5 separate regions of the Homo sapiens genome follow, and all the other regions are reported to be linked to region 2. The links are microRNA targets in miRTarBase. Many come from high-throughput screens and were not tested one by one. Region 2 holds a microRNA gene; each other region holds the end of a gene's coding sequence.

The links. Region 2 holds the annotated microRNA hsa-miR-6515-5p (UUGGAGGGUGUGGAAGACAUC, at 4,927-4,947, shown strand). A microRNA usually pairs through its seed, bases 2 to 8, with sites in the 3' UTR of a target mRNA and lowers its output. Matches are read on the target gene's strand: a 7mer-m8 pairs with bases 2 to 8, a 7mer-A1 pairs with bases 2 to 7 and ends in A, and an 8mer does both.
Region 1: the mRNA of DENND4B is a reported target of hsa-miR-6515-5p. Seed matches in the 3' UTR shown: 7mer-m8 at 4,100-4,106 and 7mer-m8 at 3,722-3,728.
Region 3: the mRNA of UBE2D3 is a reported target of hsa-miR-6515-5p. Seed matches in the 3' UTR shown: 7mer-m8 at 2,179-2,185.
Region 4: the mRNA of SFN is a reported target of hsa-miR-6515-5p. Seed matches in the 3' UTR shown: 7mer-m8 at 1,433-1,439.
Region 5: the mRNA of CLDND1 is a reported target of hsa-miR-6515-5p. Seed matches in the 3' UTR shown: 7mer-m8 at 3,729-3,735 and 7mer-A1 at 3,783-3,789.

Annotation. Positions count from the first base shown.
Region 1 is chr1:153,925,912-153,932,267 of GRCh38, forward strand. It overlaps DENND4B (DENN domain containing 4B), which reads right to left. Exons shown (of 28, transcript NM_014856.3): 24 at 6,293-6,356; 25 at 5,036-5,153; 26 at 4,781-4,946; 27 at 4,628-4,692; 28 at 3,590-4,531. The coding sequence ends at 4,386. LOC101928059 (a long non-coding RNA gene) reads left to right here. Exons shown (of 4, transcript XR_922160.3): 2 at 330-527; 3 at 2,724-2,859. Among named protein-coding and RNA genes, the nearest start is that of GATAD2B, 6.1 kb to the left of the region's middle.
Region 2 is chr19:12,935,560-12,941,915 of GRCh38, forward strand. MIR6515 (microRNA 6515) reads left to right here and starts at 4,925; the gene lies at 4,925-4,981. It overlaps CALR (calreticulin), which reads left to right and starts at 3,050. Exons shown (of 9, transcript NM_004343.4): 1 at 3,050-3,211; 2 at 3,575-3,676; 3 at 3,869-4,072; 4 at 4,494-4,588; 5 at 4,684-4,893; 6 at 4,982-5,095; 7 at 5,185-5,328. The coding sequence starts at 3,121. RefSeq lists enhancers at 2,492-2,601, 2,672-2,721, 3,348-4,097, 3,392-3,441, 4,334-5,533 and 2 more and a cis regulatory region at 2,652-3,290.
Region 3 is chr4:102,793,105-102,799,460 of GRCh38, reverse strand. It overlaps UBE2D3 (ubiquitin conjugating enzyme E2 D3), which reads left to right. Exons shown (of 8, transcript NM_181891.3): 7 at 1-54; 8 at 2,001-5,078. The coding sequence ends at 2,046. It overlaps LOC102723704 (a long non-coding RNA gene), which reads right to left. Exons shown (of 5, transcript NR_125932.1): 5 at 1-33. Among named protein-coding and RNA genes, the nearest start is that of UBE2D3, 31 kb to the left of the region's middle.
Region 4 is chr1:26,862,556-26,868,911 of GRCh38, forward strand. SFN (stratifin) reads left to right here and starts at 594. Exons shown (of 1, transcript NM_006142.5): 1 at 594-1,901. The coding sequence starts at 658. The coding sequence ends at 1,404. RefSeq lists a silencer at 260-409 and enhancers at 279-1,158, 2,303-2,432, 2,643-2,952.
Region 5 is chr3:98,513,376-98,519,527 of GRCh38, reverse strand. CLDND1 (claudin domain containing 1) reads left to right here. Exons shown (of 5, transcript NM_001040181.2): 3 at 533-643; 4 at 2,339-2,476; 5 at 2,649-4,045. The coding sequence ends at 2,869. Among named protein-coding and RNA genes, the nearest start is that of CLDND1-AS1, 6.1 kb to the left of the region's middle.

The DNA of each region.
Region 1 (6,356 bases), not on the chromosome of region 2:
TAAAGCATTCAACATAATATATAGTAACTATTTTGAGAACTTTCCTTGCTTTTTCAACAATTTCACTCTCTTACCTCTAAATTCAGCTTCTGTTGGTATTCTACCCATGGTACTGGTCTTATACTGTACTGAAAATTATTTCTCTACTAACTGCAATATTTTAACGCTTTCAGACTCCTTTCAGTCATTGAACACACATGATAGAGCCCCTATTAGGTTATCAGGCACTCATCCATGTGCTCAGGATATAGCAGTGAATTAGACAAAGTCATTGCCCTCTTTGAGGGTACATTCATCTTTCCCTAACCTACTTCTTTGTCCATTATCAGTCCATTGCATTATTTGCTGTCTGAAATGCCACCCTTCAAGGGCTTTGAGGAGATATGAAAAACATGGTAGTATATACCAGCCCAAGGAAGATAAAAGTAAGACCCGAGAAAATACTTTTCAACAAGACCAAAATTTAGGCCATGGAGGGGGACTTTCAATCTGGAATGATCGAGCTTTAAGGAAGACAAGTACATGAGGTCAGTACTGTAGTGGACATGACCTGTGCCCAATGCAGGCTCTACCTGTTTGTTCCCTTTCTGAAGCTATGGATTATATAGTTAATCTTTAAATGACCCCCAATTTGCAGGTGAGGAAGAACTGAGGCACAGCAGTAAAGTAACTTGTATGACATCATAAAATTATTAAGTGGCAGGCACAATATTTTCCTCAATTTTTAAAAAAATTTATGGAGACAGATGGGGTTTTGTCATCATTTAGCCCAGGCTGATCTCGACTTCCTGAAGTCAAGCAGTGTGCCTGCCTCAGCCTCCCCAAGTGCTGGATTACGAGTGCTGGGATTACAGGCGTGAGCCCTCACATCCAGCCAAATTTTTTTTTTTTTTTTTTTTTTGAGACGGAGTCTCTCTCTCTCTCTCACCCAGGCTGGAGTGGAGTGGAGTGATCTCAGCTCACTGCAAACTCCACCTTCCAAGTTCAAGCGATTCTCATGCCTCAGCCTCCTGAGTAGCTGGGATTATAGGCCCCCGCCACCACACCCATCTAATTTTTTGTATATTTTTTTATTTTTTTGAGACGGAGTATCACTCTGTCACCCAGGCTGGAGTGCAATGGCGTAGTCTCAGCATAGTCTTGGCTCACTGCAACCTCTGCCTCCTGGGTTCAAGCGATTCTCCTGCCTCAGCACCCCAAGTAACTGGGATTACAGGCACGTGCCACCACACTTGGCTAATCTTTGTATTTTTAGTAGAGTTGAGGTTTCACTATGTTGGCCAGGCTGGTCTTGAACTCCTGACCTCATGATCCGCCTCCCTTGGCCTCCCCTGGGATTACAGGCGTGAGCCACCGTGCCCAGCCGTAATTTTTTGTATTTTGAATAGAGATGGGGTTTCACCATGTTGGCCAGGCTGGTCTCGAACTCCTGGCCTCAAGTAATCCACCCTCCTCGGCCTCCCAAAGTGCTGATACTACAGGAGTGAGCCACTGCACCTGGCCTCAGGCGACCTTTTTTTTTTTTTTTTGAGACGGAGTCTCACTGTCACCCAAGTTGGAGTGCAATGGTGCAATCTCGGCTCACTGCAACCTCTGCCTCTGGGGTTCAAGCGATTCTCCTGCCTCAGCCTCCCAATTAGCTGGGACTACAGGCGGGTGCCACCACGCCCAGCTAATTTTTGTGTGTGTGTGTGTGTGTGTGTGTGTGTGTGTGTGTGTGTGTGTGTGTGTTTAGGAGAGACGGGGTTTCACTGTGTCAGCCAGGTTGGTCTCGATCTCCTGACCTCGTGATCTGCCCACCTCGGCCTCCCAAAGTGCTGGGATTACAGGCGTGAGCCACCGCGCCCAGCCCAAATTTTTTATACTTGAGCCTATACACTCCAAAGCCTGGGAAGAGAAAATGGGCCAGATAACTTGGGCATATCCTTCCTCTCATACAGCTCCCTAGGCCATAGGACACACAGATGTGTCAGATATCATGTTGAATACTTTGCTATTAAAATTCCCAGATTTTTGTTTTTTTTTTTTCTAAGACAGGGTCTCGCTCTGTCACCCAGGCTAGAGTGCAGTGGCATGATCTTGGCTCATGGCAACCTCCACTTCCTGGGTTCAAGCAAGCCTCAGCCTCCCGAGTAGCTGGGATTACAGGCATAAGCCACCATGCCCGGCTAATTTTTGTATTTTTAGTAGAGATGGGGTTTCGCCATGTTGGCCAGGCTGATCTCAAATTCCTGGCCTGAAGTGATCTGCCCGCCTTGGCCCCCAAAGTGTTGGGATTACAGGTGTTAACCACTGTGCCCAGCCTAGATATTCTTATGGTTAAAGAATTCTGTAGTTCTTCCATCTGACTGCAAGTCTGTAGGAGGCCCAAAAGTGAGAAGCATAAGCTGGGAGAGAGAGTTCATTATTGTTATTGTTTGTGAACAAAGGGGCCCTCCAGACCAGTAAGACTGTATGCTCCATTATGGTAGGGACTGAGCCCTGAAATTCTCTCTATAGTTCAGTGCAGTGCTGAGCTCACTACACTCAACAGAAACTTCATTTTAAAAGGCCAGGTCCTCCCTTGAAAAGGTCTTTGGGGGATGAAACAGGAAGAGGTTTATTCTGGGGACTGCAGTCTGATGAGAAACTGGGGTGGCGTGAGAATTTCCCTCTGAAGAAAGCATCTCCTAGTAAGACAAATAAATGGCATTTCCTGAGCCCCTTGGTTCTCTTCTGTGCAGCTCCTCTAGGACACTGAAAAAGCATCCTAACATGCTCAAGACAGGATAGGAAATGGTCCTCTGGCTTGAAAGACTCAGCATCCAGAAGTAGTACCTCACTCTCCATCCAGTGGTCACCCCCCAGAAATGTGCTCTCGTAAGTTATTTCCTCCATTGATACGCCTGCTCTCCTTCCCCAAGGCATTTGTTTTATTGGCTAATTCCCTTTGGTAATTGGTTTGCCGCTCTTTTAGGAGTCATTTCCTGTGTTTATTTCATTATACAAGAAAAAAAAAAAGCTCTTAAGTGGACCAAAGGGATAAGGAAAATGATGCATGTTTTCCTGATGTCCACATGCAGCAAGTCCCTTAATCTTTGCCCCTGCCTTCCTGGTGCTGTTGCCAGGCTGAGACCCTGGTTGGAGGAATAGTGCCTGCAGCTACAGCAACTCAGGCAGCCTAGGATGACTGCCAGGATGCATGAGGGCTGCCAATACCAACTACTGGGGAGATGATTGTCATCCCTGTGGAGGTACTGGAGAAGGTTGGTGGGGGAAGGTGGAAGAGAGGAAATAAGGCAGAGATGAGCTCAGGGTCCCCAGAGAATGGAGCCTTTGTGTGGGGTATAGATGAGGGACAAGGGGGTGATTGTGTGGGAGGGCCGGAAGTGCCACACGGACTGGCACCACCATAGCCAGCACCAGATTCACCCTTCTCCTGCTCTGAGAACTCCCTGTGCCTCAAGGAGCCGGTACCAGACATGGTCAGGGGACGCAGGGTATGCCTGAACACTATAAAGGATGGGAAGGTAGAAAAGCAGATGTATAGCCTGGGGAAAATGAAAGGTATCCCCGCATTACCCCAGACCCAGGGAACAGGAGGCCGAAGGAAAAAGACAGAAGCAGCTTTTACTATATTTACATCCAACAAAACTTCGCAGGGAACAATCCTTATTGCACAGGTCAGGACCTGGGTGGGTGAGGCATTCCCCAAGGCGGGGCAGGCAAGAAAAATTAGGACTGGAGGGGGCACCAGTTCTTCCTAAGGGGAGCTTGAGACTCCTCTAGCTCCCAGTGCCTGACTTTGAAGGAACTACAAACCACCGGACCATGGTGCCCTATTTCCCTTCCCTTTCTCACTCTCCATAAGAACCTCATAAGCAAGGGGGCTGTGGCTCCAGAATAAATAATTTAAAATAAAATACAAACACTTAGGTAGAAAGGCATGGAGAGCCTTGGGCTCCTTCAGCAACGTCAGGGAAGAGGGACCATTATTGGTGGAGAATGACATCCCTACCTCCCATTCAGGGCAAAGGCTCAGTAGCTCTGCATCTTTCCAGTTGTTTTTTAAAACAAAAACTTCTAAAATGACCAGGGCAATGCAGATCTGTGGGTACCCTGGAGGGGAGTTCCCGGTATAGGACAAGGGAAGAACAGAGCTGTACCAACTCCCCCCAGATCTCCCCCAACATCAGCACGAACAAACTGGGTAGGTTGGTGATGGGGGAATCAGGACTTTTGGTAACAGTGGATCCCTCTTCCTGTTGTCCTCGCTTGGAGCCTTTGACTGGGCATCCTTCCCAGCCTGTTCCCAACTCCATGAAGGCAACAGGGAAGCAGTTTAACTCTAGAATCCCTTCTTCCTCACTTCCCCACCCTAGGCTGGAGAGGGAAGCTTAAGGTCTCTAGCATTCTGGAGGTGCTCCAAAACATTTTCGGCAGTCAATGGCCTTGGGAGTGGGCATCTGCGCCCGCCGGTGCCTCAGCTCCTCCTTGCCCATGCTGCTGGCCAGCTTGTTAAAGGCAGACTTGTACTTCTTATCGAAGGCCACTAGGGAAGAAGGTGGAAGTCAACATGTTAGGACCGCAGCCTCCCACACCTGGCCCCAGATCCCTAAACTCCTCAGCCCCTTGCCTGCAATCTCACCTATGTCCACGTGGTCCTTGCCCAGAGCAGCCATTGTCAGGAATAATATCTCACGGTAGATTCCCCTTTAGTGGAGGCAGAAGTGTATGAGTGAGAGAAAAGGGGTGTGGAGCCCCGGACAGACCAGGGATCACCCAGATGGTAGCACCATACCTCTGCAGGTGCAGGCCAGTGGGTGGGGGCCCTAGAGTTTCCAGCAGGAGCCCCACAGCCTTGTGCACTTCATTGAGTCCAACATGGCGCAGCACTGACTCCAACAGTGCCAAACTAAGGGATGCAGGTACAGGGCCTGGCCATACCACCCGCTGGGGGATCTGGCCTGGATGAAAGGAAAGAAGGCCACCAGAATCACTGAGCCCTCTGGGTATGGGACCCACCCTCCCCACCCAGGCCAAATACCAGACTCACTGTGGACCCTCCAGAGCACATAGAGAGGTGGGCAGCTATTGGGGTCAGGGGTCAGTACATCCCACAGCAGCCGTACCTGAACAGAGGCTGGATCAGGGGTTAGCCAAGGAGATGGGGCCTGGGGGAGCCAAGATAGTGGAGACAGTTAGGCTCAACGAATGGGAGGCAGAGGACAAGAAACGGACAGGTGATGCCAAAGAGACAGAGGGCCATTACAGGACACAGCCAAAGAGAAGTGGGAAAGGAATTCTTATCCCCCACAAGAATGTAAGCTCTTGAGAGCAGGGACTGTTTTGTAATCTGCTACATACCTAGTGCCTAAAACCGTGCCTGGAACATAAAAAGCACTCAATACTGGTGGAACGAATAGACAAATATGAATGAATCATTTGTTTAGGTACCAGGCTCTGCACAAGGTTGTCCACACACCAGCCCAGTGAGATAGGTGCTTATGCCATTTTACAGATGACCAAATTGAGGCTCAGAGTGGTAAAGTGAAACGGCAAGGATCCGAACCAGGTGCAGCAGACTCCAAAGTCTATGCTCTTTCTTTTTTTTTTTTTTTTTTTGAGACAGAGTCTCGCTCTGTCGTCCAGGCTGGAGTGCAGTGGCGCGATCTCAGCTCACTGCAAGCTTCGCCTCCTGGGTTCACGCCATTCTCCTGCCTCAGCCTCCCGAGTAGCTGGGACTACAGGCGCCCGCCACCATGCCCGGCAAATTTTTTGTATTTTTAGTAACACGGGGTTTCACCGTGTTAGCCACGATGGTCTCGATCTCCTGACCTCATGATCTGCCCACCTTGGCCTCCCAAAATGCTGGGATTACAGGCGTGAGCCACCACACCCAGCCAGTCTATGCTCTTTTTTTTTTTCTTGAGACGGAGTTTTGCTCTTGTTGCTCAGGCTGGAGGGCAATGGCGCGATCTCGGCTCACCACAACCTCCGCCTCCCAGGTTCAAGCAATTCTCCCACCTCAGCCTCCCGAGTAGCTGGGATTACAGGCATGCACCACCAAGCCTGGCTAATTTTTTTTGTATTTTTAGTAGAGACAGGGTTTCTCCCAGTTGGTCAGGCTGGTCTCGAACTCCTGACCTCAGGTGATTCGCCCACCTCGGCCTCCCAAAGTGCTGGGATTACAGGCATGAGCCACCGTGCCTGGCCAGTCTATGCTCTTTCTACAGTGCCAAGGACACAGTGGACAAATGGCTGAGAGATGAGGGAGGCACTTAGGAAACAGGGGCCACATGGGGGCACTGACCTGGGAGTGCGAAGGCCCATCACAGGAGGCCAGCACCAGGCCTGGTAGAATACTGGGCAGGCGT
Region 2 (6,356 bases):
GCAAGGCTCTGTCTCAAAAAAAAAAAAAAAAAAAAAAAAGAATCCTAGATCTGTTATTTATGTCATTCAACCAGAAGGTGTAGTCTTTCTGTGCCTCAGTTTCTTGCTCACATGGAGGTGATTGGAGCCCAGGTTACTGTGAGAATTAAATGCCCACACATATTCACACTGCTTACTAAATTGAGTGTGGCCCATGTTCGAACACTCTTATAAGCAGAACACATTTATTCCTTTTACATCACAATTATTATTTGAGTCTGTAAAATGGGATTACTCATATCCCCAAATCCTGACCCTATATGAGGTTCTGTATTAAGGATACATTTCTCAAAGTCCCTTCTCTCCTCCCATTTTATGTTGATTATTTATTTATTTATTTAGGGAGTGGGTCTCACTCTATTGCCCAGGCTGGAGTGCAGTGGCATGATCTTGGCTGACTGCAGCCTCCACCTCCTGGGCTCAAGCAATCCTCTCACCTCAGCCTCCCGAGTAGTTGGGACTACAGGTGTGTACCAGCAGGCCAGGCTAATTTGTGTTATGTATATTATATATTATATGCTATATATAATATACATACTATTCATATATTTATGCATTATATGTCATATATAATATATTACATATGTGTACATATATATATTTTGTAAGAATGAGGTTCCACCATGTTGCCCAGGCTGGTTTTGAACTGCCGGGCTCAAACAATCTGCCTGCCTCAGGTTCCCAAGGTGCTAGGATTATAAGTGTGAACTACCATGTCCGGCTTATTTTTATTTATTTTTGAGACAGGGTCTTGCTCTGTAACCCAGGCTAGAGTGTGCAGTGGCAACAACACAGCTCACGGCAGCGTCAACCTCCTGGTCTCAAGTGATCCTCCTGCCTCAGCCTTCTGAGTAGCTGGGAACACAGGCAGGCGCCACCACGCCTGGCAATTAAAAAAAATGTTTTTGTAAAAATGGCCTCCTGCTATGTTGCCCAGGCTGGTCTTGAACTCCTGGCCTTAAGCATTCCTCCCATCTTGGCCTGCCAAAGTGTTGGGATTACAGGCGTGAGCCACTGTGCCCCGTGTGTTTTTAGTTAATTTCCACAAGAGTCCTTCCTTCCTCTCTTCTATCATGCAGCAAGTACTTTTTAAGCCTGTTCTGTGCCAGGTGCTGCAGGTGACACTGGAGGATGCGAAGTGAACAAAACAGGCAGTGTCTAACCTCAAGTAGGAAGCGCCAAGCCCACAGGTGCCTGACACAGGAACAGGAGGAAGGGTCAGCAAGAGGCCTGGGATGGTCCCCGGGATCCTCATGGGGGGGACCAGACTAGGCAATACTGAATACTACCTAGAGGAAGTGGTAGAACCCCAACTTCCCAGTTCATTCTCCCCCGTCTTTTTTTCGAGATGGAGTCTTGCTCTGTCACCTGGGCTGGTGGGCTGGAGTGGAGTGGCGTGATCTTGGCTCACTGCAATCTCTGGCTCCCAGGTTCAAGCGATTCTCCCACCTCAGCCTCCCGAGTACTGGGATTAGAGGCACCCGCCACCACGCCTGGCTAATTTTTATTTATTTATTTATTTTTATTTTTAGTGGAGATGGGTTTTCACCTTGTTGGCCAGGCTGGTCTCGAACTGACCTAAAATGATCTGCCCGCCTCGGCCTCCCCAAGTGCTGGGTTTACAGGCGTGAGCCACTGCGCCCGGCCACCATTTCTTTTTTTTTTTTTTAACCAGAGACCCTTGCCAAGTCATTCCCCCCACTCCACTTTATTTTCCTTTTCATTTTTTCCTTCCTCTCTTTTCTGAGTCACAACCATTAGCCAGGAAGCACCCCCTCCCCACCCTCTTTCCTGGATCCCCCTCATTCCCTCCTTCCATAGTCCACTCCCGCGCTCCCAGGTCCAGGGCTTATTTGCCCAGAGTTTGGAAAACCCCCAGCTCTCCTTCCTCCTTTCTACAGCGTGGGGGCAGGGTACTGGTGCCAGTCACGTGCCTCTGGCTTCTGAAGAAGACTCTAGACTGGGGTCGGGGGGTGGGTCCTGCCCATCTCCCTAGCATCTTATCGTCCCTACCATCTGTGTCTTTTTTCCCTCCCCAAACGGAACCCCCTGCCCTCTCGCCTGCCTATAGCCGTTTAATTGCAAAAGCCAGGCCGTTTGTGGGAGACCACAGACAGCGACCCCCTTCATTTACCGGTTGAGAGGAGGGTAAAGGGGCGGCTGCAATCTGGGTAATAACCCTATCCCCACTCCAGAAGTCACAGTCACATCGTTAAGCCTTCCTCCCCTCTTGTCCCAGGACAGCTTTAAAAACGTTAAAAGCATTTCTGCTGGGTAGCATCTGGCCAGGGTCGCCCCCTCTGTCTGCTCAGGAACGTCTGTCACTTCAGAGAGCTTAAGTGACTTGCCCCGGTCACACAGCAGCAGTCCGATAGGCTGCCAGGGCTCTAGGGGCAGAAGGAGGAGAGGGCTGGCATTCTTCCCACCGGCCCGCGTGACTGTAGCACCGGGGTGCAGCGAAGCCCCAAGGGCCCCAATCCGTGAGCTCTCTCCCATCCCAGGCAGGGGTGGGGGAGCAGCAGTGGGGTGCTGGTTCTCAAATGCAAGATAAGAGCTGGCTAAGAAAGCCTTGCCCAGCCCCTCCACCTAGAGGGAATGGGAGGGAGAGAAGCTGAGGGCAGGGTCCCGGTCCCGCGTGGAGACAGCTGCGCTCCCGCGGTTTCTTTAAACGCCCAGATGGGCAACGACGCGCGCGGACGAGGGCGGGGTTGGGTTCAGGTCTGGTCACATGACCTGGCCTGAGGTGCTCGCGGCCCCCACCCCACCAGTGGGCGTCCCCCCCACGCGTGGTCGACCATCATTGGTCGGTGGTGAGGCCAATAGAAATCGGCCATCTGGGAACCCAGCGTTCCGAGGCGCAGCCTAACATAGTGAACCGACGAAGGTCCAATGGAAAAAGACGGCCATGGGCATAGACCAATGACAAAGTGGCAGGGGCGGGCCCAAGGGCTGGGTCAGGTTGGTTTGAGAGGCGGGTGGGTATAAAAGTGCAAGGCGGGCGGCGGCGTCCGTCCGTACTGCAGAGCCGCTGCCGGAGGGTCGTTTTAAAGGGCCCGCGCGTTGCCGCCCCCTCGGCCCGCCATGCTGCTATCCGTGCCGCTGCTGCTCGGCCTCCTCGGCCTGGCCGTCGCCGAGCCTGCCGTCTACTTCAAGGAGCAGTTTCTGGACGGAGGTAACGCCTGGTCCCGCCTCGAGGCCGCCCCGACGACGCGGCCGGCCCCCGATCCTGGATCTGCGTTGTCGCCCGTAATTACCGTTTAGAGGTCCAACACGGTGGCCTCCCGGGACTAGAGCCGCGGGCGATTTCTCTTCTGCGTCCCTGGGGAGCGCGGAGGGCGTAGCGGCCTCCCGCGGCGGGAGTTAGGGTTAGCCCGAGGATCTCTGAAGGCACCCGACGTGTCAAACTAGAGGTTGGAATGGGGAGTGTCGGGGATCTCCTTTCCTGTCCCCAGCAGCTTGTGGCTCTCGGCAGATGTTTGGTGTGGGGGGGGATTAGCACAGCCGCTCTGACCTACCCCTCTAATCCCCCACTTAGACGGGTGGACTTCCCGCTGGATCGAATCCAAACACAAGTCAGATTTTGGCAAATTCGTTCTCAGTTCCGGCAAGTTCTACGGTGACGAGGAGAAAGATAAAGGTAAGAGCCTAGGAGTGGGTGCTCAGATCCGGGAGGACTTCCTGGCAGAAGTCCTTGTCTGTACACACACAGCCGGGACAGTCCCCTTGGAGGAGGACAGGTGGAGGAAGTGGGGGAGTCTTCTCTATTCTCTAAGTCGAGGGTCCTCGCGAGTCAAGGCCCAACGGTGACCTCACTACCGTCCCGTCTCAGGTTTGCAGACAAGCCAGGATGCACGCTTTTATGCTCTGTCGGCCAGTTTCGAGCCTTTCAGCAACAAAGGCCAGACGCTGGTGGTGCAGTTCACGGTGAAACATGAGCAGAACATCGACTGTGGGGGCGGCTATGTGAAGCTGTTTCCTAATAGTTTGGACCAGACAGACATGCACGGAGACTCAGAATACAACATCATGTTTGGTGAGGGCCTGCTTCCTGGTGCTGATCTCTGTCCCATTAGTTAGAGGGAGACCCAGACCCCATTGACTTTCTTAATAATGATTTTTTTTGGAAGGGGAGCTAAAAGAATAAGTCCCAGCAACAATTTATTGCATTATGATCGCAGATCTAGGCTGTTAATTTAATTTGCGTGTTTGTATATAGTTATTTCCCAATCTTACTAATGAGGATTTTGAGTTCTAGAGCACTGATTTTTTTTTTTTCTCCTTTAAACTTAAGGCTCCACCCACAGCCCATTCAGGACAGAATCAGGGTCTGAGTTTCTCTTCTCAGCCTTGACAGACCCGAGTTGAAGAACCAGGTCTTCCTTTTATAAAGAGGGGTGAGAGCCTCGAGATGATGGGTAGTCTCTGACTCTTAACTGGATCTGCTTCACACCTAGGTCCCGACATCTGTGGCCCTGGCACCAAGAAGGTTCATGTCATCTTCAACTACAAGGGCAAGAACGTGCTGATCAACAAGGACATCCGTTGCAAGGTGTGCCTGGGGGTGGTGGCAAATGGCTGTCATGGGGAGATTCAGAGGTCAGCCTCATTGGGGGGTGGCCCCCGCTCACCTTCTTCCTTCTTCAGGATGATGAGTTTACACACCTGTACACACTGATTGTGCGGCCAGACAACACCTATGAGGTGAAGATTGACAACAGCCAGGTGGAGTCCGGCTCCTTGGAAGACGATTGGGACTTCCTGCCACCCAAGAAGATAAAGGATCCTGATGCTTCAAAACCGGAAGACTGGGATGAGCGGGCCAAGATCGATGATCCCACAGACTCCAAGCCTGAGGTTGGTGTTTGGGCAGGGGCTCTGCTCTCCACATTGGAGGGTGTGGAAGACATCTGGGCCAACTCTGATCTCTTCATCTACCCCCCAGGACTGGGACAAGCCCGAGCATATCCCTGACCCTGATGCTAAGAAGCCCGAGGACTGGGATGAAGAGATGGACGGAGAGTGGGAACCCCCAGTGATTCAGAACCCTGAGTACAAGGTGAGTTTGGGGCTCTGAGCAGGGCTGGGGCTCACAGTGGGGAGTGCACCAACCTTACTCACCCTTCGGTTTCCTTCTCCCTTCTGCAGGGTGAGTGGAAGCCCCGGCAGATCGACAACCCAGATTACAAGGGCACTTGGATCCACCCAGAAATTGACAACCCCGAGTATTCTCCCGATCCCAGTATCTATGCCTATGATAACTTTGGCGTGCTGGGCCTGGACCTCTGGCAGGTGAGACTTGGAGGAAAAAGGAGGATCCCTGGGGTACCTCAAGTGCATAAGATCACCCAAGAGGAAAGGGACAGGGTAGGCACCCCAGGTGAGTCTGACTCAAAAATGGTACTTCTTGTAAACAGTACTTCCTGGTCTGTCCCTGTGAAGTCCTCACAGCAACCCCTTTAAGGTTATACTTGCTGTGCACCAAGTACTTCCCCAAGTACTTTTATGCAAATCAACTTCTTTACCCCCAAAGACCTAGAAGGTGGTCAGGTAACCCAGTTAGTTAGCTGGGGCTGGGCACAGTGGCTCACCCTTACAATCACGGTACTTTGGGAGGCTGAGACAGAGGATTGCTTGAGGCCAGGAGTTACACAACTCAACCTAGCTTGGCAACACAGCGAGGAGACCCTATCTCTACAAAAAAAATTTTTTTTTTTGAGACAGAGTTTCACTCTTGTTGCTGAGGCTGGAGTGCAATGGCACGATCTCAGCTCACTGCGCCCTCCGTCTCCTGGTTTCAAGCGATTCTCCTGCCTCAGCCTCCGGAGTAGCTGGGATTACAGGCATGTGCTACTATGGATGCCAGGCTAATTTTTTTTTTTTTTTTTTTTTTTGAGACCGTGCCTTGCTCTGTCGCCCAGGCTGGAGTGCAGTGGTGTGATCTCTGCTCACTGCAAGCTCCGCACGACCCCCCAGGTTCACTCCATTCTTCTGCCTCAGGGTCCCGAGTAACTGGGACTACAGGCACCCCCCACCATGCCTGGCTAATTTTTTTGTATTTTTTTTTTTAGTACAGACATGGTTTCACCGTGTTAGCCAGGATGGTCTCCATCTCCTGACCTCATGAACCACCCACCTTGGCCTCCCAAAGTGCTGGGATTACAGGCGTGAGCCACCTCACCCAGCCTTTTTGTAGAGACAGGGCTTCATGTTGCCCAGGTTGGTCTCGAACTCCTGGCCTCAGGTCATCTGCCCGCCTCGGCCTCCCAAAGTGCTGGGATTACAAGGGTTAGCCACCATGCCTAGCCTCTACAAAAACT
Region 3 (6,356 bases), not on the chromosome of region 2:
AGATGACCCCCTAGTGCCAGAGATTGCACGGATCTATAAAACAGACAGAGATAAGTAAGTATGTTAAAAAGTTATTATAAAAGTGGTTTTACTTAATGAGTTAGGCTTATACTTTGCTTGTGACAGTGCCAAGAAGACTTGATATTTAGTAAGATAATAGTTAAAATATGGAGAAAGCTATTGAAATGTGGTTATTTAAAAAAACTTAACTAGGCTTTAGCTTATGTGACAGTGAATGCTCCCCTCTAAAATGTTTTATTGTTGTTTTTTTTTTCCTAGCGTGTTAAACAGTATCACTTTATTCTCAACTTTTGGGGAAGAAAGCAAATTTTTCTTTACCCCAAGCATGTTTTTCCAAAAATGTTAGTACTATTGTAAAAATTTGGTCTAAATTTCTCAAATATTTGAATTATATTTATGTTCAACTTAACCATTATAACTTTCATATGTTATAATTAATGCTAAGTGTACTTGTTCAATTAGGTACAATAGGTTAGCAAGAGAGTGGACAGAGAAATACGCTATGTTGTAGGGTAAGAGGATCTGCACTCTATGGTGCGCTTATTATGGTACTGCCAGCACTTGAGTGCTGCATGCGTTAAGGCACTGTATTAACTAACAAAAGGTAACAAATATGGCAGTCTTCTGAAAACTGTACATTTAACTGCTTGGTCTCTGTTTAACGTGAAAGTAAATATCTGGTAGCCGTTATTGCTTGAAAGTACTGCATGGCAAAGCAGTTACAATAGCACTAGTAAGAAATGGGAATTTATGTAGTATCTTTTTTTTTTTTCAAACTATCATGGTGTTTAAATTTTAGCTTGAGACTTTGTACCAATCCTATACAGAATGTGGTGGTTTAGTTCAAATTTTGCCGGGAGATAGTAATGTAAGGGAAAAACACTTTTAAGCCTAAGCATCTAAACTAAATGTTCATTACTGACAAGCATGCATTAGCGTCAGCTGTACTTTGTGGCTCCCTGTATGCTAAATAAAGCCTTTGTTTTAAAGTGCTGGCTTTTTGAGAGAGTATCCTTAGGAGATGACAATGAATTGGTAGAAAGAACTTTTTAAAAAGTTTAGGAAAGTTGTTGGACCATATTTGGTTCTTGGTTTGAAATAAAGCTAGTTAATATTTAAACAATATAAAAATTCTCCTGTGCATATATATATATATATATTCATTTCTTAAGGTTATCACTGTTTTTTGTTGTTGTAAGTAGTCTATGGCATGAGTATAATCCAGGGGGAAGCTGATAGTATTTATCAATGTTAGTAGTCTTCCTGAGTAATAACCTTGCTTGTGTGTGAATTACCTGTTGATCTTTTTAAACGAAGATGCCCTTGTTGTACTCAACAGGTCTCAGTGGTGCTTATTAGCCTCAGTTACCACACTTATTAAAAGTAACACGTGATTCTGATGAACACAACCACTCACACACACACCCCTTTTGAAAATTACTGCCCTTTGTCATTCTGCCCAGTGTCATCTTCCCCTTCTGCCTCTACCTAAGTCCCAAAGCCATTTTTTCTTGTAATATCCAGGACCAAGTAATTTCCCAAACTCTAGGATTCAGATAAAATTGTTCTAGTAAAAGCCTAGTTCTGGCCTTGGTGGAAATTTCTGTGGATAGATAGAATGTGTATACTATTTTAACATTTGTCCATAATGAACTGTAAAAATTTCTTCACGTTAAAATTAGAGCATGAGCTCGGTGGTAGAGAAAGAAAGGGTCTTTTGATTTTTGTTAGCCTCCCAATTTTCAGTGCTGCTTTCTTAGTTGTTTTTAAAATACTACTTTCAGAGCATCAGGCTCTCATTTCCCACATTGCTTTGAGTACCAGTGCTATTTCTCCCTTGTTGGCTTTTATTCTAATCATAGTCATTAGAGATGACTTCATGATGAGTCTGGAGATGATAAAATGGAAATCTTTCCCTTCCATTTAAAGTATTAGGAATTCTTTATTTTAACTTTTAAAAATAACATCTTTATTTACAGGTACAACAGAATATCTCGGGAATGGACTCAGAAGTATGCCATGTGATGCTACCTTAAAGTCAGAATAACCTGCATTATAGCTGGAATAAACTTTAAATTACTGTTCCTTTTTTGATTTTCTTATCCGGCTGCTCCCCTATCAGACCTCATCTTTTTTAATTTTATTTTTTGTTTACCTCCCTCCATTCATTCACATGCTCATCTGAGAAGACTTAAGTTCTTCCAGCTTTGGACAATAACTGCTTTTAGAAACTGTAAAGTAGTTACAAGAGAACAGTTGCCCAAGACTCAGAATTTTTAAAAAAAAAAATGGAGCATGTGTATTATGTGGCCAATGTCTTCACTCTAACTTGGTTATGAGACTAAAACCATTCCTCACTGCTCTAACATGCTGAAGAAATCATCTGAGGGGGAGGGAGATGGATGCTCAGTTGTCACATCAAAGGATACAGCATTATTCTAGCAGCATCCATTCTTGTTTAAGCCTTCCACTGTTAGAGATTTGAGGTTACATGATATGCTTTATGCTCATAACTGATGTGGCTGGAGAATTGGTATTGAATTTATAGCATCAGCAGAACAGAAAATGTGATGTATTTTATGCATGTCAATAAAGGAATGACCTGTTCTTGTTCTACAGAGAATGGAAATTGGAAGTCAAACACCCTTTGTATTCCAAAATAGGGTCTCAAACATTTTGTAATTTTCATTTAAATTGTTAGGAGGCTTGGAGCTATTAGTTAATCTATCTTCCAATACACTGTTTAATATAGCACTGAATAAATGATGCAAGTTGTCAATGGATGAGTGATCAACTAATAGCTCTGCTAGTAATTGATTTATTTTTCTTCAATAAAGTTGCATAAACCAATGAGTTAGCTGCCTGGATTAATCAGTATGGGAAACAATCTTTTGTAAATGCAAAGCTGTTTTTTGTATATACTGTTGGGATTTGCTTCATTGTTTGACATCAAATGATGATGTAAAGTTCGAAAGAGTGAATATTTTGCCATGTTCAGTTAAAGTGCACAGTCTGTTACAGGTTGACACATTGCTTGACCTGATTTATGCAGAATTAATAAGCTATTTGGATAGTGTAGCTTTAATGTGCTGCACATGATACTGGCAGCCCTAGAGTTCATAGATGGACTTTTGGGACCCAGCAGTTTTGAAATGTGTTTATGGAGTTTAAGAAATTTATTTTCCAGGTGCAGCCCCTGTCTAACTGAAATTTCTCTTCACCTTGTACACTTGACAGCTGAAAAAAAACAACATGGGAGTAATAATGGGTCAAAATTTGCAAAATAAAGTACTGTTTTGGTGTGGGAGTTGTCATGAGGCTGTGTTGAAGTGACTTATCTATGTGGGATATTGAGTATCCATTGAAATGGATTTGTTCAGCCATTTACATTAATGAGCATTTAAATGCAACAGATATCATTTCAGGTGACTTAACATGAATGAATAAAAGTCAATGCTATTGGATTGTTTTTTGTTTGACAAGTGCTATCTGTGCCACTGATTTAACTTCTGTAGTAACAAGGGCATTACCATTCTTCACCTTTCCTAATTCTGATCCCATAGTTTTACATTTTTCCTGTTTATTTTGATTTTGTTCACTGCTTTATTTCTTAAAGTTCTAGCACATCTGTGACTCCTCCACTTCCACATTTTTGCACTGCTTACACTTACGTGCAATCTTATTCCTTGTCTGCACACACATGTGGAAAGCTAGAAATAAATGTTAAAACTTACTTTTTATAAACATTTTAATATGTAGTTTGGACATGATTTATTGACTTAAGGTTCTTCTCTAAACTGGAAGTGAAATGCATGCCTTCTGAAGATGTTCTGGCTTTGTTAATTCTGTAATCATTTCATTGGGGAAAAAACCAGCTACGCAGTTTTTCCAATGAGTGAATTTTTTCATTTTGTGTTTTGCTTAAAACGGCTCCTTCAGGGTAGATGTCATACTGCATAACTTTTTTGGATTCAAATTATGAATGAGAAATTAGTTAACATTCTGCTCCACAAGGTAAGAAAAACTGCTCTTTGGCTCTATTTTCAAAATTACTTCTGAGATGCATATAGTCTCAAAATAACAGCTTTAGTAGGCATATCACTTCTTGAAAGCCAAACATGAGTGTAAGACACTTTTATGAAACACGGTGGATCCCTAACTGGCTTTCAAATTGACCTTTATAGCCTTAGACAACCCTTAGGTATTTACGGAGATGACTTCTTTGATTGTCATAACAATTAGTGGATGTGTCCAGTTCTCTGTATCTTTGACTTGATGCTTTATACATCATTTCATTTGTTGCTTCTAAGGGAATAAGCCATAGAGGCTTCTCCAGGTTTAAAAGAACAGTAAAGTACCTGGAAAACCAACATTTTTGAATGTATGGACACTGGACATGAGATATGTACAATGAAATCTTAAAAGAATCTAAGAATTTGCCCTCTTTGCCCCACTCCACCCAGTAATTTGACATTACTAGTGCCATGTATAGGACCCAACTGAGTATTAGAATCAGTTTTGACTATGTCTTTGTATTTCCTAAATCTTTTAATGCATAAACCGAATTAGGGTCCAGTTGGCCTGTTAATGGTAAATTTACATTTTAAATGACTCAGTTTGTTTTTCCTGGGCGAGTTTGCAATGTGATAATCAGATTTTTTAAAACTGATTAATTTGCTTTCTTGTGTGGGTGTACTCACATTTTAAAGTATGAACCACAGTTAACTAGTGGTCTCAGGGGTAGTGAAACACTCACTTTTTTTTTTGTTTGTTTTTTTTTGTTTGTTGAAATGGCTTAGTTGAAGTATACTTAAGGTACTGATCATGCTGTGTTAGTAATTTGGGCGGGGAGGGGGGTAACTCAGCCATGTTTTGTGTTGGCATAACAAAACTGTTAATGATTGTTGATTACACTTTTAAGTGAATTTGTCTTTTATGAGGAACCCAGTGCAAGTCACTAAATATTGTCTAATAGTGACATCTGCATAAGACTTGTAATAGCTGAAGTTAATTGAGCTTAAAGGAATTGTTACCATTAAAGTCTGTGTTTAAAGACACTTTGGTCTTACTCGGTAATTCCAGCTAACATGAAATCCACACTTGAGCTTAATGTGTGTGAGCTCGATTTTTAATTTTATACAGTTTATGAATAAGGTGGTTCTCAAAATGTTTCTTGAGATAACAATCTCAGCATCATTTAGGAAATTCTTTGTAATATAAGTTGTCAGGCCCCATCCCAGTCCTGAGTCAAACTGGCATGGAGCCCAGTCACCTATATTAAAACACCCTCCAAGTGATTCTGATGAATAGTGAAGATTGAGAACCGTTTTCAGAAGTCTGTTCGTAGCATTCCCTTGTAACAGACTACAACCAGTAATCCTTTGACTCTACAGCTATTTTTTTATAGCTGTTTTTGGCTTTAGAGAATGTGTTTAAGTATTACGTTTCTGATACCTGACAATTTCCTAGTACTTTGAATTGTAATACAGTACATTGATTTCCACATTTACACTTGGAATATTAAAATACATTAACGTCCTACAGTTGGCTAATTTGAATAACCATACTGGCATGGAATTCAACCAATCGTCAAGTATTTAAAAGTAATCAGGTGCAAAGATCTACCTAAGTATTGTGTTGGCTAGCTGAACAAATTTGAACCCAGATCCCATTCTGTGGCCTGACACTAGGCAATTTTTCCAAGTGGAAATGATGCTATGTTAAGGGTGTTTGCAGTGTTTGACAGATATTAAAGGTACCCTAAGGTGACTATTAAGATTTCTCGTGCTGTCCCATTGTAATGGAAAAATCAACGGTTAAAGGTATTTGGAAATGGCTTCAAAACATGACAGTGCCACCCCCTGCCAAAAAAACTTGAGGAACCATTTTAACAAAAAGACTTAAATATATTGAAGTTCGCCGAATGTCTTAAGTCCCTAGAAATTATTACTGTGTTGCATTATTTGTTGCTACCTTATAACTACTTGCTCATTTCTGGCCTCAGGTTTGAAAAATTTTATATGATTCAGGTATACAAGATGTTTCTGACAATTGTTCTTTTACTTGGGATGCTTCCATTAAAGTCCCATTATCAGTATCTAGATCTTCCCAAACTGTATGCTATTTATGAATGAGATTTTTTAAGAGCCCTCTTTTCTGTATTGTAAAAAATATTATGAAATTTACATTTTTACGTACTACTGTCTGATCCTCTATAGAACTTGATTTCTCATTTACCGTATCAAATTTGTAGTCAAGGCTAAACAATGAACTTTCATGTCATACTATCTTAGGAGCCCAGTTAACCACCGTCATTTACTAACCTTCAAGCTATT
Region 4 (6,356 bases), not on the chromosome of region 2:
ACTTTGAGCAAATCTCACCCCTCTCTGAGACTTAGTGTTCCCATCTCTATGGTCCTGTGTGTGTCACAGAGACATGGTGGGGATTAAATTCGATCGTGAATATGAAAGTGCTTGGGAAACTCCATGGCCCTACCTAAACATGAGTTATCCTCACCTGAACCAAGGGGGGAAGTTACCTGGCAGGATTAGGAACCCCATCCTCCTGAACCTTTATGGGCTCTGTCGAGGCTGAAGCAGCCAGGGGCTAAAGCCGTCCTTAGCCCCTGGAAGGGCACTGTGAAAGTGGATCTGATTTGAGAAGCCGTTTCCTGATGTGGGCAGCCATGTGATGCCAGCCCCGAACAAGAGGGGGCAGCCTGGAGCCTGGAAAGGTGCCAGTGCAGGTGGGGCCCACGCCCAGATTTCTCCTGCTGACTGTTCTGATGATTCACCCCCACATCCCAGCCTTTTTACCTTTACTGCAGAGCCGGAAAGGGTGTGGGGAAGAGAGGAGAGGGAGGCAGGTCTTGGGCCCTGGTCCCGCCCCCTGCTCCTCCCCACCCTTCTCTGGGCCTGGCCACCCAGCCAAAAGGCAGGCCAAGAGCAGGAGAGACACAGAGTCCGGCATTGGTCCCAGGCAGCAGTTAGCCCGCCGCCCGCCTGTGTGTCCCCAGAGCCATGGAGAGAGCCAGTCTGATCCAGAAGGCCAAGCTGGCAGAGCAGGCCGAACGCTATGAGGACATGGCAGCCTTCATGAAAGGCGCCGTGGAGAAGGGCGAGGAGCTCTCCTGCGAAGAGCGAAACCTGCTCTCAGTAGCCTATAAGAACGTGGTGGGCGGCCAGAGGGCTGCCTGGAGGGTGCTGTCCAGTATTGAGCAGAAAAGCAACGAGGAGGGCTCGGAGGAGAAGGGGCCCGAGGTGCGTGAGTACCGGGAGAAGGTGGAGACTGAGCTCCAGGGCGTGTGCGACACCGTGCTGGGCCTGCTGGACAGCCACCTCATCAAGGAGGCCGGGGACGCCGAGAGCCGGGTCTTCTACCTGAAGATGAAGGGTGACTACTACCGCTACCTGGCCGAGGTGGCCACCGGTGACGACAAGAAGCGCATCATTGACTCAGCCCGGTCAGCCTACCAGGAGGCCATGGACATCAGCAAGAAGGAGATGCCGCCCACCAACCCCATCCGCCTGGGCCTGGCCCTGAACTTTTCCGTCTTCCACTACGAGATCGCCAACAGCCCCGAGGAGGCCATCTCTCTGGCCAAGACCACTTTCGACGAGGCCATGGCTGATCTGCACACCCTCAGCGAGGACTCCTACAAAGACAGCACCCTCATCATGCAGCTGCTGCGAGACAACCTGACACTGTGGACGGCCGACAACGCCGGGGAAGAGGGGGGCGAGGCTCCCCAGGAGCCCCAGAGCTGAGTGTTGCCCGCCACCGCCCCGCCCTGCCCCCTCCAGTCCCCCACCCTGCCGAGAGGACTAGTATGGGGTGGGAGGCCCCACCCTTCTCCCCTAGGCGCTGTTCTTGCTCCAAAGGGCTCCGTGGAGAGGGACTGGCAGAGCTGAGGCCACCTGGGGCTGGGGATCCCACTCTTCTTGCAGCTGTTGAGCGCACCTAACCACTGGTCATGCCCCCACCCCTGCTCTCCGCACCCGCTTCCTCCCGACCCCAGGACCAGGCTACTTCTCCCCTCCTCTTGCCTCCCTCCTGCCCCTGCTGCCTCTGATCGTAGGAATTGAGGAGTGTCCCGCCTTGTGGCTGAGAACTGGACAGTGGCAGGGGCTGGAGATGGGTGTGTGTGTGTGTGTGTGTGTGTGTGTGTGTGTGCGCGCGCGCCAGTGCAAGACCGAGATTGAGGGAAAGCATGTCTGCTGGGTGTGACCATGTTTCCTCTCAATAAAGTTCCCCTGTGACACTCCTCCTGTCTCTCTTCCAGTTCTTGGCGATGGGCTGGGAGTGGGACTGGAATCTGACTTAGAGACCCTGACTTTGGACCTCTGAGTTAGGGCCCTGAACTCCCTAGGTGGCTCAGTGGCCCGCACGCAAGACTTTGAGTCCAGGTGAGGCCGGGGTCCGGCTCTCTCCATCACGGCGGCCCCAGTCAAACTGGACGGGACCGGGAGGGTCGGGTGAACCCACAGGAGGCGCCGTGGCTCCTCTGCCGGGCTGAGGGGAGGTGAGTGGGAGCCACGGCGCGGGAGGCTGACGAGCTCTGGTGGAGCGGGGCAGGAAATAGTGAAGTCTCCGGCGTGAGATCTAAGGACAGCGCCGCAGTAGTGAGCGGCACTGAGCACCCGATTTGCAGGCGGGTCACAGTTTCATCAAGGGCTCAGATCTCAGCGGAGGGGAGTACGATCTGAGGAAGGGGTATAGCGCCGCCAAAAAAGCCTAGATCTTAGGAGAGGGTCACGTCCCACAGAGTTCGGAGATGGAGACAAAAGGAAACGGGCTGAAGGGGAGGAAGGACGAGCTGGGTGGGAAGGGCCGCTGGGAGCTGTGCCTACCGAGCCCGCTGCCTGAGCTCTCTGCAGCCAGCAACACGCCGGAACCTGCAGCCGCCTTGCTCCGTCCCGCCTTCGCAGCCCTGGACTGGAGGCGGGGCCCGAGGCCAATACCGCCCAATCACAGGAGGGAGCTGCCCCAGGGTACCGCCCCGGGGGCCTGACTGGCCAATGGGAAAGTGAGCGGCGGAACGCGCGCGGCGAGTTTCCCGCCGCCCGCCAGGCCTGGCGGACACCACGACTCGCTGACTGACTGAGAGGCGCCCCCGCCGCCCGCTGAGCGCCGAGGGGCGGAGCTTTCCCGGTTTCACTCAGACAAGTTGCCGCCCGTCCGGCCCGAGAGCTGGGAACCCTCTAGAGCAGCGGGACGAGCCAGGATCGCAAAATGCAGTGCTTGCCCGTTGAGTCATCAGCTCACCCGGCTGGGCCTGGGCCGGGCCGGCCGCGGGGGTTGGCTGGAAAAAGGCCGCCAAGATGCCCCCACCACACTCCGAAATCCAAGCAGCCCTGGACCTGTCGCCGAGAGGCTTGGATTGTGTCCCTGGCTGGCTGTGCGACCTTGGAAAAGCCGTTATACCTCCCTGGGCCTCAGTTTCCCTCTTGTATCATAAGGGGCTTGGACTAAAGGCTAACACAAGAGTGAAAATGGCGGTTTTGGCCGGGCGCGGTGGCTCACGCCTGTAATCCCAGCACTCTGGGAGGCCGAGGCGGGCGTATCACGAGGTCAGGAGATCGAGGCCATCCTGGCTATCACAATGAAACCCCGTCTCTACTAAAAATACAAAAAATTAGCCGGGAGTGATGGCGGGCACCTGTAGTACCAGCTACTCGGGAGGCTGAGGTAGGAGAATGGCATGAGCCCAGGAGGCGGAGCTTGCAGTGAGCCGAGATCACGCCACTGCACTCCAGCCTGGGCGACAGAGCGAGACTCGGTCCCCCCACCCAAGAAAAAGAGAAAATTTGCGATTTTGGACTCAGACAGCCTGGGTTTGACTCCCAGCCTGCCTTGGCCAAGGCTCTTAATCTTGCTTACCTTTGTGTCCTCATTTATAAACAGGGGAACTGAAAAACAGTACCTTCCTTTTATAGTTGCTGTAAAGTAACCCATAGGACAGACTCAACAAATGTTAGCTTTTTTTTTTTTTTTAAGACAGATTCTCGCTCTGTCGCCCAGGCTGGAGTTCAGTGGCACGATCTCGGCTCACTGCAACCTCCACCTCCCGGGTTCAAGCAATTCTCCTGCCTGAGCCTCCCAAGTAGCTGCGATTACAGGTGCATGCCACCAGCCTGGCTAGTTTTCTTATATTTTTAGTAGAGACGGGGTTTCACCATATTAACCAGGCTGGTCTCAATCTCCTGACCTCAGGTGATCCGCCTGCCTCGGCCTCCCAAAGTGCTGGGATTACAGGAGTGAGCCACTGCGCCAGGACTTTTTTTTTTTTTTTTTTTTTTTTGAGACAGGGTCTGGCTCTGTCACCCAGGTGCGACAGTGGCGTGATCTCAGCTCACAGCAAACTCGAGCTTCTGGTCTCAAGCGATCCTCCCACTTCAGCCTCCTAGTAGCTGGGACTACAGGGGCCTGCCACCACACCCAGCTAATTTTTTATTTTTTTTATTTTTATTTTTATTTTTATTTTTATTTTTTTTTGAGACGGAGTTTCGCTCTGTCGCCCAGGCTGGAGTGCAGTGGCGCGATCTCGACTCACTGCAAGCTCCGCCTCCCGGGTTCACGCCATTCTCCTGCCTCAGCCTCCCGTGTAGCTGGGACTACAGGCGCGCGCCACCATGCCCGGCTAATTTTTGTATTTTTAGTAGAGACGGGGTTTCACCGTGTTAGCCAGGATGGTCTCGATCTCCTGACCTCGTGATCCGCCCGTCTCGGCCTCCCAAAGTGCTGGGATTACAGGCGTGAGCCACCGCGCCCGGCCTATTTTGTTTATTTTTATATGGAGTCTCGCTCTGTTGCCCAGGCTGGAGTGCAGTGGTGCAATCTCGGCTCACTGCAACCTCTGCCTCCTGGGTTCAAGCGATTCTCCTGCCTCAGCCTCCTTAGTAGCTGGGATTACAGGCATGCACCAGCATGTCCAGCTAATTTTTTGTATTTTTAGTAGAGACGGGGGTTTCACCATGTTGGTCAGGCTGGTCTCGAACTCCTGACCTCGTGATCCACCCACCTTGGCCTCCCAAAGTGCTGGGATTACAGGCGTGAGCCACCACACCCGGCCTATTTTTTATTTATTTTTTATTTTTTATTTTTGAGACAGGGTCTGGCTCTGTCACCCCAGGCGTGACAGTGGCTTTTGGTCTCAAGCAATCCTCCCACCTCAGCCTCCTGGTAGCTGGGACTATAGGTGCCTGCCACCGCACCCAGCTAATTTTTTATTTTATTTTTAGTAGAGACAAGGTTTCACCATGTTGGCCAGACTGGTCTCAAACTCCTGGGCTCAAGCGATCCTCCTGCCTCAGCTTCCCAAAGTGCTAGGGTTACAGGCTTGTGCCACCTCACCCAGCCTCAAATGTCAGCTATTAACGAATCCTTCCAGCTTCAATAAGTCTAGGATTTGGCCAGCATTTTTATGCCTAAAGCAGAATCATGAGGCAGGCCCAGTCCTGAGGGGCAGCCTTATTGCCAAAGCTGACCTGCACGCCTGCTGAGCCCCCTGAGAATGCTGCCCTCACATCAGGTGGTCACTCTTCCACCTGGCAAGATGGAGAGAGCTAAGCCCAGGGTCCAAGCTTGGCCACACCAATAGGACTCAAAACTGAAGGGTTTTTGTCAGAACTCCTGCTTCTACAGGGGAAGCCGGCAGGACCACTCTGATGCCTTCTGGGTCCCCTGTTTTCTCCCTTCCTTTCCTAGAGGTGTGTCAGATTTCAAGGCTCCAAACCAGGGACTCTAGGCAGGGCAAGTAACTCCACTCAGATCTAGAGGTGACCTGATTTCTCTCACCAGACAGGTCTGGTGACTCTCTCTTAATGGGCTACATCCTGGGAAAGGAACTTCTTTCTTTTCTCTCAGCCTCTGACTTTTGTCTGTTAGCTCTGGACCACTCGTGGTTGTCCCATATGGGGAGAAGTGAGCTGCCCTAAGGTAGTGTGTCGGTGTAAGGATTTTAAACCAGATGCTGTGCATTGGAATATCTCTAAATCAGATGCTTACCAGGGCTAAATGTGAGCTGGCTTAGGCACCAGCTTCTTTTATTTTCTTTTCTCTCTCTCTCTCTCTCTCTCTCTCTCTCTCTCTCTCTCTCTCTCTCTCTCTCTCTCTCCCTCCTTTCTTCTTTTCTTTTCTCTTTTTTTTTTTTTTTTTGAGACAGGGTCTCACTTTGTCACCCAGGCTGGAGTGCAGTGCCACGATCTCGGCTCACTGCAGCCTTGACCTCCCAGGTTGAAGCTGACCTCCCAGGTTCAAGCTATCCTCCCACCTCAGCCCCTCAAGTAGCTGAGACTACAGGTGTGCACCACCACACCCAGCTAATTTTTGTAGAGACAGAATTTCACTATGTTGCCCAGGTGGGTCTTGAACGCCTCAGCTCAAGCAATCCACCCACCTCAGCCTCCCAAACTGCTGGGATTACAGGCGTGAGCCACCGCGTCCAGGCTCTTTTCATTTTTTAATGTTTAGTTTTTATGGGTACATAATAGTTGTACATATTAGGCACCAGGTTCTGACCACAAGGATCCCAAACCTTTTTGTCCATGACTTTTTTTTTAATCTCTTGGTGAACACTTCTTGCCAGCTTTTCCTGGCCTAGAATTGATATTTGAACAATTTCAAGGCCAGGCACAGTGGCTCATGCCTGTAATCTCAGCACTTTGGAGGGCGAGGCAGGCAGATCCCTTGAGGCCTGAAGTTCAAGGCCATCCTGGCA
Region 5 (6,152 bases), not on the chromosome of region 2:
TAGAAGTAATTCAGGTTAAGTGATGATTATGACTCACACCAGAATGGTAGCACTGAGCAGCAGCTGGATTCTGGACATAGTTTGAAGGAAGAATTCCTGGGATTTCCTGATGGAGTGTAAATGTACAAGAATTACTCTAAAGTTTCTGGTCTGAGGAACTGGAAGTGTGGATTTGGCATTCCCTGAGATGGGAATATGGTTGATAAAGCACGGTTGCATGAGAAGATCAACATTCCTATTTATTTCAGTCTTTGTTCCCTCCCCTTCTTCCTAGGCTTTCTACATAGCTATTCTGCCATTCATTTTACTGCTTCCACTTTATTTTTCTTCCTTGTGCCTATGTCTTCAGCCTGCCACTGAGAACCAGTGGCATCCATTGGACATCTATGAAACCTGTGTGTCAGTCAGGGCCAGAGAAGTTGCTGACCCCTCTGGAAACATCCTTTACTGTTTTACTTCAGAGAATAATTACTGAAAGAGATTTTTGTTAAATGTTTATAATTAAAACAACAGGCAATTGTTCTTGTTCCAGAGTCATTTGATGTGGTCACAAAATGTGTGAGTTTCACACTAACTGAGCAGTTCATGGAGAAATTTGTTGATCCCGGAAACCACAATAGCGGGATTGATCTCCTTAGGACCTGTGAGTACTTTGATTTCACCAGGACAGTTGGGGGAACAAAGATAATTTTATTTGTCTCTTTTTGGACTATGTTTTTGGAATAAGATGAGTTAGTAGATTGTGCCAACGTGAAATAAAATCTCTAACAGTATCCAGTGAACTCTATTCTGTTGATATTTTAGAAGGTAGATACATGCTTACCAAATTTCAAATGATTTGAAGTTGACAGGGCCAACTACTTCATTGGATGATGGGATCTAGACCTTCAAAAGATGTTATTAATGGGCCCATTTAGTAAAAGGAAATTTAGTTGAGATAACTTATACATTCCTATATTTGAATTAAACACTTTCCACTGCTTGAGTTCAGGTAAGTATATGTGAAAAAAGTTTACTGCAAGCTCTAAATGAGTCAGTGAGTTGTCAGGCCTGTCAAAAGTGTTTATCCAGTCTTAGGTGATAGTAACAAAAGGGTAGATGTCAAAAAAGATGAAAGTATTTATTAGGAACAACCTATTCCCTGATGGTCAGGCAGCCCATGAAATACTGTCTTCAGATTTGAGCCTCAGTTTTCAGGGCTATAGGGACTTGCCCAGAAGAATGACCATGTTGTAAGAGAAAAGGTTGAATAAGAGGTAGGTATTCAGTTTTATAAAGAGAATGTGTAGCAAGCAGTTTATTACTAGGAGAGTTTGAAAGAAAGTAAGTTAGAAAAACACATAAGAAGTTCCAGAAAGCAAAACCAGCACCAAAAGGTGTAAAGTTTAGTCAAGATTGATATGAATGCATTTCTAATAATGAATATTATTGGAAAATGGAATGGCATGTTTTGTGAGGTCATCAGGTTTTCTTCCCATGTTGATGAGAGATTTATGATAATTAAAACTACCTTTAGATTCTCTGCTTTGTGCTTTATATATATTCTTCAACAGCCCTATAAGACAGGTCATTTATAATTACCATTAATTTACTTGTTGTTACTGCCTTTAGATCATATAAAGACCTAGATATTGTTGGTAGGTAGAGTCAGACTGATTTTTGTATCAAATCCTGGCTCTACCACTTACTGTGTTATTTTTACAAGTTATTTATGACTCTTGCCTCAGTTTCCTTAATTACAAAATGGAATTAATAATAATACAGCTGTAGCTATGGGGGATTGGATTCAGGACCCCCTGCTAATTCCAAGGTTGCTAAAGTACCTTATATAAAATGGCATAATATTAGCATATAACCTACACAATCCTCCTGTATACTTTAAATCATCTTTAGATTGCTTATAATACCCAATACAATATAAATGCTATGTAAATAGTTGTTATACTATATATTTGTAAATTTGTATCATTTTTTTTTCTGAATATTTTTAACCCTTGGTTAGTTGAATCTGCGGATGTGAAACCTGCAGATATGGAGGGCTGACTGTACCTACTTTCTAGGGTTGTTGGGAGGATTAATACAGAAAATGTGTAGACAAACATAGCATGGAACATAGTGAACCCTCAGTAATTGCTACTACCTGTTAGTGTCCTTTTACTTTTATCAGGACAAGAGTAGCATCCTTTTGAATAATGTGCTTTAGAAAAGAGGCCTCAATGTTAAAATACTTTCACACTTTTTGAGAAAAGATCTAATTAGAATATGAAAGAAATTGCCATTGCGGGGAAAATGGTCTGAAATCACGGTAACATTTCTTTTCTCTCTTTTTAAAAATCAGATCTTTGGCGTTGCCAGTTCCTTTTACCTTTTGTGAGTTTAGGTTTGATGTGCTTTGGGGCTTTGATCGGACTTTGTGCTTGCATTTGCCGAAGCTTATATCCCACCATTGCCACGGGCATTCTCCATCTCCTTGCAGGTAGGTTTTGTCATCATACTTACCTTTTAGCTTCTTCCTGTCTCTTTAGGGACCAAAGAGTTATAAATCTGAAATGTTCACGTATTAACTGCCCTGTCACATTGCCTGAAAAGCTCTTTACTGTGCTTTTATCCAGCCATGTTTTGTTTTGTTTTCTAAATTTTCCCCCAAGGTCTGTGTACACTGGGCTCAGTAAGTTGTTATGTTGCTGGAATTGAACTACTCCACCAGAAACTAGAGCTCCCTGACAATGTATCCGGTGAATTTGGATGGTCCTTCTGCCTGGCTTGTGTCTCTGCTCCCTTACAGTTCATGGCTTCTGCTCTCTTCATCTGGGCTGCTCACACCAACCGGAAAGAGTACACCTTAATGAAGGCATATCGTGTGGCATGAGCAAGAAACTGCCTGCTTTACAATTGCCATTTTTATTTTTTTAAAATAATACTGATATTTTCCCCACCTCTCAATTGTTTTTAATTTTTATTTGTGGATATACCATTTTATTATGAAAATCTATTTTATTTATACACATTCACCACTAAATACACACTTAATACCACTAAAATTTATGTGGTTTACTTTAAGCGATGCCATCTTTCAAATAAACTAATCTAGGTCTAGACAGAAAGAAATGGATAGAGACTTGACACAAATTTATGAAAGAAAATTGGGAGTAGGAATGTGACCGAAAACAAGTTGTGCTAATGTCTGTTAGACTTTTCAGTAAAACTAAAGTAACTGTATCTGTTCAACTAAAAACTCTATATTAGTTTCTTTGGGAAACCTCTCATCGTCAAAACTTTATGTTCACTTTGCTGTTGTAGATAGCCAGTCAACCAGCAGTATTAGTGCTGTTTTCAAAGATTTAAGCTCTATAAAATTGGGAAATTATCTAAGATCATTTTCCCTAAGCATTGACACATAGCTTCATCTGAGGTGAGATATGGCAGCTGTTTGTATCTGCACTGTGTCTGTCTACAAAAAGTGAAAAATACAGTGTTTACTTGAAATTTTAACTTTGTAACTGCAAGAATTCCAGTTCAGCCGGGCGAGGATTAGTATTATTTTTAACTCTCCGTAAGATTTTCAGTACCACCAAATTGTTTTGGATTTTTTTTCTTTCCTCTTCACATACCAGGGTTATTAAAAGTGTGCTTTCTTTTTACATTATATTACAGTTACAAGGTAAAATTCCTCAACTGCTATTTATTTATTCCAGCCCAGTACTATAAAGAACGTTTCACCATAATGACCCTCCAGAGCTGGGAAACCTACCACAAGATCTAAAGTTCTGGCTGTCCATTAACCTCCAACTATGGTCTTTATTTCTTGTGGTAATATGATGTGCCTTTCCTTGCCTAAATCCCTTCCTGGTGTGTATCAACATTATTTAATGTCTTCTAATTCAGTCATTTTTTTATAAGTATGTCTATAAACATTGAACTTTAAAAAACTTATTTATTTATTCCACTACTGTAGCAATTGACAGATTAAAAAAATGTAACTTCATAATTTCTTACCATAACCTCAATGTCTTTTTTAAAAAATAAAATTAAAAATGAAAAGAGACTCAATTGTATATAGAGTGTCTGAATTGATTTAAATCTCAACACTTTAGGATAAAGAAGTGGAGGCAATCTCTGTGGTTGTCTGTGCAAAGTGCATCTTGCTGTACAGGGCTGTCGTTACATCCTGTGTTTGGGTCTCTTGTTTGATCTTCTGGGAAATGTAGGAACCCCTTCCCCCTATTAGAAATAAGAAAATCTTTATCTTTTATTTTTCAGAATTTTAAACCATGTTCTCAAAAGTAGTTTTGTTATCTCTACATGTCATACTTAATGTGGCTAGTTTTCAGTAAAGTCATTTAGTGGCTGTGGATGTTTGTGTTCTATAGTAAATAACCAAGTCAGCTTCTGACTTAGAACAAAGTCAGCATTACTCTGTAGCCAATTATTGCCTGTGAAATGACTGGTTACTCAGGTTTCTATCTAATCTTAATTCTTGAAGATTCATTACCCTTCAGCGCCTTCTGTGGAAGGTGGAAAAGAGAAAAGCTAAATGAACAAACAAAACACCTTTGGGAATGGGATAAGAAAATTTTTGGCAGCATGACATTTTTGTATTGGTCAGTTATTTTAAACAATGTCCCTGCCTCTTAATACCCCAGAGTTACATGGGAAGCTACTAGCACCATAACCCCTGGTGCTGCATTGTAGTTGGTATTTTTAGCATGTTGCAGGGTAGCTGAGGTTATCTTTCCTGCAAAGACTTTTTTTCTTTGGAATATATAGGGCTGTATTGTTCATTTAAATGTGAAACTGATTCTAATCAGGTTGAACCATATGAAACTGCAGATATTCAGCCATTTTTGATCAACCTAATAGATAAAATCAGTGGCAAGGCGAACCCTATTTAATCTTTGAAAGCAACCCCCAAAGTAAAAAATTAATTTTCAGATTTTTCAGAATGAATTTTTTTTTCTTTTGGGGTGGAGTTTCACTCTTGTTGCCCAGGCTGAGTGCAATGGTGCGATCTTGGCTCATCACAACCTTTGCCTCCTGGGTTCAAGCGATTCTCCTACCTCAGCCTCCCGAGTAGCTGGGATTACAGTCATGCACCACCATGCCCAGCTAATTTTGTATTTTTAGTAGAGATGGGGTTTCCCCATGTCGGCCAGGCTGGCCTTGAACTCTCGACCTCAGGCGATCCGCCCGCCTCGGCCTCTCAAAGTGCTGGGATTACAGGCATGGGCCACCATACCCGGCCTCAGAATGAATTTTGTGGCAGTTTAACAAATGTGTTTTAAGACTTTGATTTTATAGCTCCTAACTAAATGATGTGGGTAAATATCCTCTATGATTTTTAGCAAAAGACTCATTTCAAAATTTATTAAGTATAGCCATAAAACACAATTTGGCACAACAACAACAACAACAAAAAAGGAATTCTAGAATTTATTCAGATAACAGTGTGCCTTCTGTCTGCATCATATTACACTAGGATTTCAAATTTATAATCTAATGGGAATGTGTTAAAATTTTACCTGCTGTAGTTGTGTGTGTGCACATGCACACGTGCGTTAAGGGAGAGGATAGGGTTGACAATCACTCCTAGGTGAACTCATTTAGTCATATGATTTGAGAAGAATGAGATGACCACAAACCATATCAATTTAGTTTGTTTTTCCATTCCAGAAACATCACCAAATTGCAGACTAGCACAGTTAAAACCTATAGACCCTGTCATGTTCAATTGACTATAACATATATAGATCGGGCCATTTTAATACTTAGCCTTCATATAAACTTTCACCAAAAATGAAAACCTGTTAACCTAATTTTGCTGATTGAAAAACTTTCTTTTTTGTGAAATGGAGTCTCACTCCGTCACCCAGGTTGGAGTGCAGTGGCCCAATCTTGGCTCACTGCAACCTCCGCCTCCTGGGTTCAAGGGATTCTCCTGCCTCAGCCTACGGAGTAGCTGGGATTACAGGTGTGTGCCACCATGCCCAGCAACTTTTGTATTTTTAGTAGAGATGGGGTTTCACCATGTTGGCTAGGCTGGTCTCAAACTCCTGACCTCAAGTGACTCACCCACCTTGGCCTCCCAAAGTGCTGGGATGACAGGCGTGAGCCACTGCACACGGCCTGATTGCAAAACTTTCTGAAATTCTCTA